2 linked regions of the Homo sapiens genome follow. The protein of the gene in region 1 purifies or fractionates together with the protein of each later gene. This does not show direct contact. Each region holds a gene or a part of one and is shown on either strand. Other genes may lie near its edges.

Region 1 (3,817 bases):
GGCAATCACCACCAGGCACAGGTTGATCATGAAGAAGGAGCCCACCTGTGACGGGGGCGGGCGGGTAAGTGGCAGTGAGTGAGCGAGTCTCTGATTCGCCACTGAGCCCTACTGTGCGCTGCCTGTTCGAGTGGGGGCCGCGTCACAGGCACAGTGGGCGAGGTGCCCTGCTATGGGCAGGCTGCTGCGGTGTTCAGTGCTGAGCCCCCACGTCTGGAGCAGACGGCATACAGTAGCTGCTTTGTGCCTATCTGGACAAAAGACCTGGAACCCTCTTTCCTGCTTCTCCATGTGGCTCGGCCCCTCCTTTACCTGCAGATCTGGCCTTGAGATGACCCTCTCAACGGTGGCCACTCTCCCCTCCCCAGCACCCCAGGTGCGTTTCCTCCTTAGCATGGACCAGCGTGCAGCAAGTCTCTAATCGTTCGCTTCGCTTGCTCTCTCAGAACAAGCTGGGGACGTCTGTCTGCTTCTGTTACCTACTAGGTCCCCGCAGGGTGGCTCTAGGTATACCTAGGACCCCACAGACGTCTGCGGCCTGATTAACCCAACTCTGCCAGGACCCACTGGGGCCTATGAGAGGACCAGCTAAGGAGCACACCTGGGGCCACACACGCCCGTGGAAAGCGGTGCTGGGAGGCTATGCACTCCCCAGGGTGTTCCTGGCTCTTCAGCCCTGAGCCAGCACCCACAGGCCTGGACCCTGTCTAGGTGATGCCATGGCCTCTTGGGGTCCCCAGCCACACCTCCCCACCCCCGCAAGCTCTGCCTCCCTCCCCTGTGTGCTCCCTTCAGCTGGAAGACAGACAGGAGCCCCTATGACCACCCAGGTACCCCACCCCACCCCCAGCCAGCTAACACCAGGGCCCATCATGGCGAACACTGCCGCCCACACTCACGATGATGAGCAGGATGAAATAGATGAAGTTGTAGAATGAGTGGGCGTCCATGACGTAGTACATGATGTCCACCCAGCCTTCCAGCGTGATCACCTGGGGGGGCAGTGGCTTGACTTGGGCCCGCACGACCCCTCCTCCTCCTCCCCGTGCCCCTGGGGTCTGGGCTGGGGGGGGCGAGTCCTGCACCCGCTCCCCTGCCGTGCCCCAGGGTCCCCGTCCCACCATCTTGCCGCCCACCTGGAAGATGGCAATCCAGGCGTAGCCGATGTTGTCGAAGTTGATGGCACCGTTGTGGGGGTTGGAGTCACCCGAGCGGCACACGTTGTAGTACTGGTTCCAGTTGATGCAGGCGTTGCGTGCAGCGCCCACCCCCTCGGCCTGCGGCTGCGTGTAGGCCTCCCAGCCCAGGGTGCAGGGCATGCGCAGCTCGCGGCGGCCGGGGATGTGCGAGCACTTCTGCATGCCGTTGTCTCGGCGTGAGGAGCAGATGAACGGGTTCTCCTCGCCCTCCTCCGTCTGGTAGTACGGCCGCAGGAAGGTCAGGTTGTTGTTCCTGGGGATGGGCACAGCCAGGGCCAAAAGGTACAATCAGGGTCAGGGACGGTCAGAGTCGGGGGCACGATTGTGATCAGGGACGTGATCAAGGTCAGGGACGTGATCAGGGTCAGGGCCAGTGGACTAATCATGGTTAGGGAGGCACGGTTAGGGTCAGGGGGCATGATAGGACTGAGGGTCAAGACCCGGATCAGGGGACACAGCCAGGACCAGGGTCAAGAACACAGTGGTGCTGCAGAAACCACACTCTCCTCAGCCCAAGTCCACAGAGACAAACACACAAAGAACAGGGATGGACAGAGAAATCAACAAAGAACAGCACAGACAAACAGGGAGGGAGACCCAAGAGCCAGAAACCCAGGCTCAGACCTCAGCAACTCCTGGAAGCGGATGAGGGGCAAAGGGCAAGGGACGAGGGGAGGGAAGCCTGGGGTGAGGGAAAGGAGGCAGCCCTGGGGTGAGGGCTGAGAGGATCCAGGGGTGAGGGCTGAGGGCAGGGAACCCCGGGGTGTGGGCTCAGGGGACCCTGGGGTGAAGGCTGAGGGGAGACTCGGGGGTGAGAATTGAGGGGAGAACCCGGGGTGAGGGTTGAGGGGACCCCGGGGTGAGGGCTGAGGAGAGACTGCAGAGCAAGGGCCGAGGGGAGACCCTGGGGTAAGGTGTGACGGACTCTGGGGTGTGGGGAGGGGATGAAGTGTTGGGACTAACCTGTCTTGGGGGCTGAGAGGTGGCAGCACTGGGGGTGGGACATATGTGCAATGACCGCACGGTGGGTGGAGCCATGATGGGGGTGGGGCATATATGCAGCGACCGCACGGTGGGCGGAGCCATGATGGGGGTGGGGCATATGTGCAGCGACCGCACCGTGGGCGGAGCCATGATGGGGGTGGGGCATATGTGCAGCGACCGCACGGTGGGCGGAGCCATGATGGGGGTGGGGCATATGTGCAGCGACTGCGCGGTGGGCGGAGCCATGGTGGGGGGTGGGGCATATGTGCAGCGACTGCACGGTGGGCGGAGCCATGATGGGGGTGGGGCATATGTGCAGCGACCGCACGGTGGGTGGAGCCATGATGGGGGTGGGGCATATGTGCAGCGACCGCACGGTGGGCGGAGCCATGATGGGGGTGGGGCATATGTGCAGCGACTGCGTGGTGGGCAGAGCCATGGTGGGGGGTGGGGCATATGTGCAGCGACTGCGCGGTGGGCGGAGCCATGGTGGGGGGTGGGGCATATGTGCAGCGACTGCACCGTGGGCGGAGCCATGTGGGGCGGTGACTGCCAGCTGGGCGGAGCCATGATGGGGGGTGGGGGCGGGAGACAGCATGGTGGACGGAGCCATGACGGGGACAGCAGTGGCGGGGCGGGTGACTGCACGGTGGGCAGAGCCACGTGGGGCGGTGGAGCCACATGGTGCGTTATCTGCATGGTGGGCAGGGCCATCTGGGCAGGGGCCTCACGGGGGTGGGGCCTGGGCACCTGACAAAGGCACTGTCCAGGAAGCAGCGGTTCCGCAGGAGGCCAGCCCAGAGCTGGACGCCAACGATGCCGAAAATGAAGAAGACGAAGAAGCACAGCAGAAGGACGTTCCCGAGCATGGGCAGCGTATCCAGCAGCAGAGTGACCAGGATCCGCATGCCTGTGGGCAGCAGGGCCAGGATTGGCACTGCTAAGCCCTGCAGGAGTGTCCTCGGGGCTGCAGCCCCTCCCGGGACCCCCGAGCCCCGTCCACTGTTCACAGTGGGTGTCCACGCCCACTGCACACTGACTCGGGCCACCCCCTGGTGATTTTCCCGCACCCCTAGTGTGATCGGGACTCCCCTCCTACCACCACCGGCCTCCAGGGACACTGACACCCTGGGGTCTGACGTGCATCCAGCGGGGCGCCAGGTCTCCACCTCCAACCATCCCAGGGCAGCAGGTCTGCTGCTTTTGGAGGGCTGGGGTGTGGAGGGGCAGGAGTGGAGGCAGGGGACTGGCCGAGGCAGGGAACTGGCTGCGGCAGGTCTGACCACGTGGCATCTCGGGCTCGGGATGACCAGGCGGAGCCCAGTGGCCCTCGAGGCTTGTCTGGCGACACCCTGAAGTTGCCACCAAGGCAGCAGGAGCCTTGGGAGCCCCAGAACCTCAGGTGGTGGGCTGCCTCCTGGGGGTCTCTGCAGCAGGTCTGGGATCCTGAAAACTTTGTCTGATTCCCAGTGAGAATCCTGCCAGAACAGAGCCCCATCTCAGAGAGAGGCTGCTGGAGGCGGTGGGGAGGACCGGCAGCGGCTTTTCAGGAGGTAGCACTGAAGCCATCGGTCCTGGGTGCTATGGGCTACGTGAACTCCAGATTAATCCAGCAAGTGGGTCAGCCAAGCCCC
Region 2 (3,817 bases), on another chromosome or scaffold:
TGTAATTTATAAGGCAAAACATAAGCTGCAAGAGCTGATATGACTACAGTGAAATTTAAGGGCAGTAAACTTGATGAATTACTATAAGTAGAACAGTTCTGTGGCTCTGTTCTTTGTGGGGGACCTGAAAGGACTTCTCCTGTCTACCAGTAACTTCCTTTCTATTCTAGTACTGATGTTCCAAATACCTACAGATACTAACATCTATAGCCTTAAAAAATTCCATTTATACTGACAGAGTTTATCATGAACTCAAATTTGCCTCAGAAAAAGACTACTGAGCATCTTTTCAAACTCATCTACCAATTAAAGAGACATTAAGGAAGAGAAGTGAGGTCTTACAGGCATAAATTCTAATTATTTCATGATATAGACACATAGGTCATATTATAAATAAGAAATACATTATTGGTATAGTGTGTCACTGGTCCATTTAGAGAATTTCACCATAATTAGTCAAACATTTTATAGTCAAAGATTCTTTTTTTCGCTCATTTCTGGGTTTGAACTGTATAAAGAGCTCACACTGAGGACCAGGACTCAAGATAGCACACAACAATACTGGTTTACAATATTGTCCATTCCCCTTATTACTCAGAATATTTGTAAAAGTAATGCCCTGGTCTCTCCTATTTTGCTTCTTCTGCAATAAGGCCAATTAGAATAATTATTCCTGAAGTGATCTTTTAGCAATTAACATGATTTAGAAATAATTTTATCCAAAGCAATTATTAATGTAAAAGAAACTGATGAATCTAAGGTATTAAAGTGAACTAAGTTAGAAAATGTTGATCTTAACCAGACAGTAAAGTGAATTGGGGACCCAAAAGAATTAGGACGAACACTGAATAAAGGAAGAGTTAATTTTCCTTAACTGTTAAACTACATTACAAATCGGGCAGGACATGGAAGATCATGCCTATAACCCCAGCACTCTCGGATGGCTGAGGTGGAAGGATCCCTTGAGCGTTTGAGCCCAGCCTGGGCAACACATAGAGAGACCTCATCTCCCCCCAAAAAAAGTTTAAAAAATTAGCCGGGCATGGTGGTGTGCATATGTAATCCCAGCTACTCGGGAAGCTGAAGCAGGAAGATCACTTGAGCCCAGATTGCTAATTGCAACACTCTATCTGAAAGGCACTATTTCTCCTCTATTTGTTTTCAGTTATATAGGGCATCTTGTCATGGCCTTAATAAGTTTGAGCATAGTGCTATCTCAAACTGTGTTCCTCAGTACTATGCAAGATAAATGACCAAGAGGAATTTGGTATTACTAACATAGAATTGGCCACATATATTTCCCATATAGATCCTGGTGAGGGTAGCATTACAGTGCTAGCTCCCAATCAAATTTCCCAGAAAGAAAACATACATAAAATAAAGATGAACAGAAAATCCACCTCCAATAGAGTTGTGCAGTTTGTAAAAACACTCAAGAAACATCATGTAAATTAACTTTTAAAGTTCTTGAAACGACAATTTTTATTTTCTGACAAATAGGCACGAGGTCTTAGAATTAAAATTTTTTCCTTTTGCAATACCTAACTCTCAGTTATACACACTAACATCAGGGAACATTATCTACTAAAATTTAAAATGTAGGATAACTTTTTAAAAAATAATCACAAACATGCAGCTTTTGTATGACCTTTGTTATTTGTTTCAAAGTGGATTTATCTTATGCTAGGAAAATAATTTTGACCAAATGCCCAAACCACACTATCAAGAGCTAGCAAAACTAGAAGCTATCTAGTTTAAGGGGTCCCAAATTAGACCCCTTAAACTCAATTCCTTCCAGTAACTTAGTCCATGCTGAGAATAGAGAGTCCCTCCAGCAAAGCTGCTGTCTTTCAAACCTCCCCTGCAGTTGAGGGTGGTTTCAAAGTTGAAGGAATGAGCTTCAAGCCGTGTACAAATTAAGAATAAACAGAAGTCAACAAAGCATGTAATTAGCAGGGGCTAATCGTGAAATCTGAAAGCAAGGTTTGCTGCGGATACAATATAAAAGTAATGTTATATCCAAGGATAACTGAGAGATGACTATACTGTAGATTTATTTAAGTATGATACCCTTTTGGTTTTATTTTTCTTTTCTGAACAAAGAAGAGTATAATATTTTTGAAGCTATTAAAGTTCATCCTTTTCTATTAACATTTTTACTAGTTTTATCAAATGTTTAAGATCTTGTTTTAATGTACATTCATGAAATTCTTTTTAGTTCATTTTTCTAATGTTTACAATATAATAAGAAAAATGGAGGGCAAGGAATGTAAAGCAAATCAAAGCAGGTTGTTTTTTTTTTTTAAAGAAAATCAAAAAAAGAAACCTCATTCAGAATGAAAATTTATAATTTCAAAACACAGTGTACTTTTCAGATATACCAGTGGTGGTAGTGAACAATACAATGACATTTAAAATAGAACATGTATAGGCTACAAGTAAAAATTGTTTACAGGAAAAAAATTTTTTTTATTGAAAAGCAATCATTGGCCAGGCATAGTGGCTCATGCCTATAATCCCAGCACTTTGGGAGGCTGAGGTCAGAAGATTGCTTGAGCCCAGGAGTTTGAGACCAGCCTGGGCAATACAAAAATATAAAAAAATAAAAAATAAAAAAAATAAAAAAAATTAGCTGGCTGTGGTGGCATGTGCCTATGGTCTTAGCTACTTGGGTGGCTGAAATGGAGGACTGCTTGAGCCCAGGAGGTTGAGGCTGCACTGCACTCCAGCCTGGGTGACACAGCAAGAAACCAGACCCTGTCTGTCTCTCTCACACACACACATGTACACATGCACACAAAAAAAGAAAGACAGAGAGAGAGAGAGAAAGAGAGAGAGAGAGAGAGAAAGAAAGAAAGAAAGACAGAAAGAAAGAAAGAAAGAAAGAAAGAAAGAAAGAAAGAAAGAAAAAGAAAGAGAAGAGAAGAGAGAAAAGAAAAAAAAAGAGCACTTATTATGGAACCAAGTGAAATGAAATTGTGAAGTCAAATGTAAATTCATTCAAAACGTTAAAATTGCCTATTTTTTTCCCTCTAAAAAAGTCACTAATTACAACACCAAAAAGAAACCTAATTATGACTAAGGAAAACATCAGATCTGTTGCTATTTTAATAGACAATGACCCTTAGAGGGCTGTCAAAAGTGACTACAAGAAATTCAGGCTTTTCCACATCATGTATTTTTGCTTTCCAACCACAGGAAAAGAAATCTAGACTGAATTACTGTGTATGGTCACTAATACTCACATCACTCTCTTCTATTTAATCTGTAATGGGCTTTTAAAAAGTTAACCCAGTATTTACACAAATATTTACGCCAAAAAAAGTTTTTTAAGTATAAAATATTCAATGAGCCAGATTACAGGAATGCTTTACGTATAATTCTTTTTATTTTCATGCAAAATAAAGGCACACTTAATAACACCCTTTCAATTTTGACTTACAGGATTTAAATTCAACCCCTTATAACAATGACTTAATATCTAATGTTACATTCATGTTCAGAATGCACAAAGTGCAGCAACAAATGCAGCAAACCTCAAAACAAGGTGCTACAAAGCTGCTTCTACATTGCAAGACAGACAAGTGTCTGATGGAGTAATTTAATTGAACATACTTTTACAGACATACAGCTAACCTAAAGAAAGACAGACAGATTTAGGAAAGCAGCTACATCTGCAGAGGAAGGAAACAGCATGTTACAGACAGTTAATTATACATAGAACATTTGACAAACACCACAGAAAACAAACTTTGGCATCATTTACCAGGGTACAAAACCTTGCACAAATCTTTTGGTAACTGAAGGGCATAAGTAA

What was found.
Region 2: the proteins of CACNA1H (region 1) and PPP3CB purify together in Homo sapiens (co-immunoprecipitation; one study listed by IntAct). This does not show direct contact.

The regions. Positions count from the first base shown.
Region 1 is NC_000016.10:1,197,891-1,201,707, reverse strand, and holds part of CACNA1H (voltage-dependent T-type calcium channel subunit alpha-1H), read right to left. Parts: intron 3,094-3,817; coding exon 2,934-3,093; intron 1,453-2,933; coding exon 1,137-1,452; intron 993-1,136; coding exon 900-992; exon of another isoform or gene 487-899; intron 377-486; exon of another isoform or gene 319-376; intron 65-318; exon of another isoform or gene 46-64; coding exon 1-45.
Region 2 is NC_000010.11:73,440,423-73,444,239, forward strand, and holds part of PPP3CB (serine/threonine-protein phosphatase 2B catalytic subunit beta isoform), read right to left. Parts: exon of another isoform or gene 3,367-3,817; intron 1-3,366. UniProt on the Homo sapiens protein: Calcium-dependent, calmodulin-stimulated protein phosphatase which plays an essential role in the transduction of intracellular Ca(2+)-mediated signals.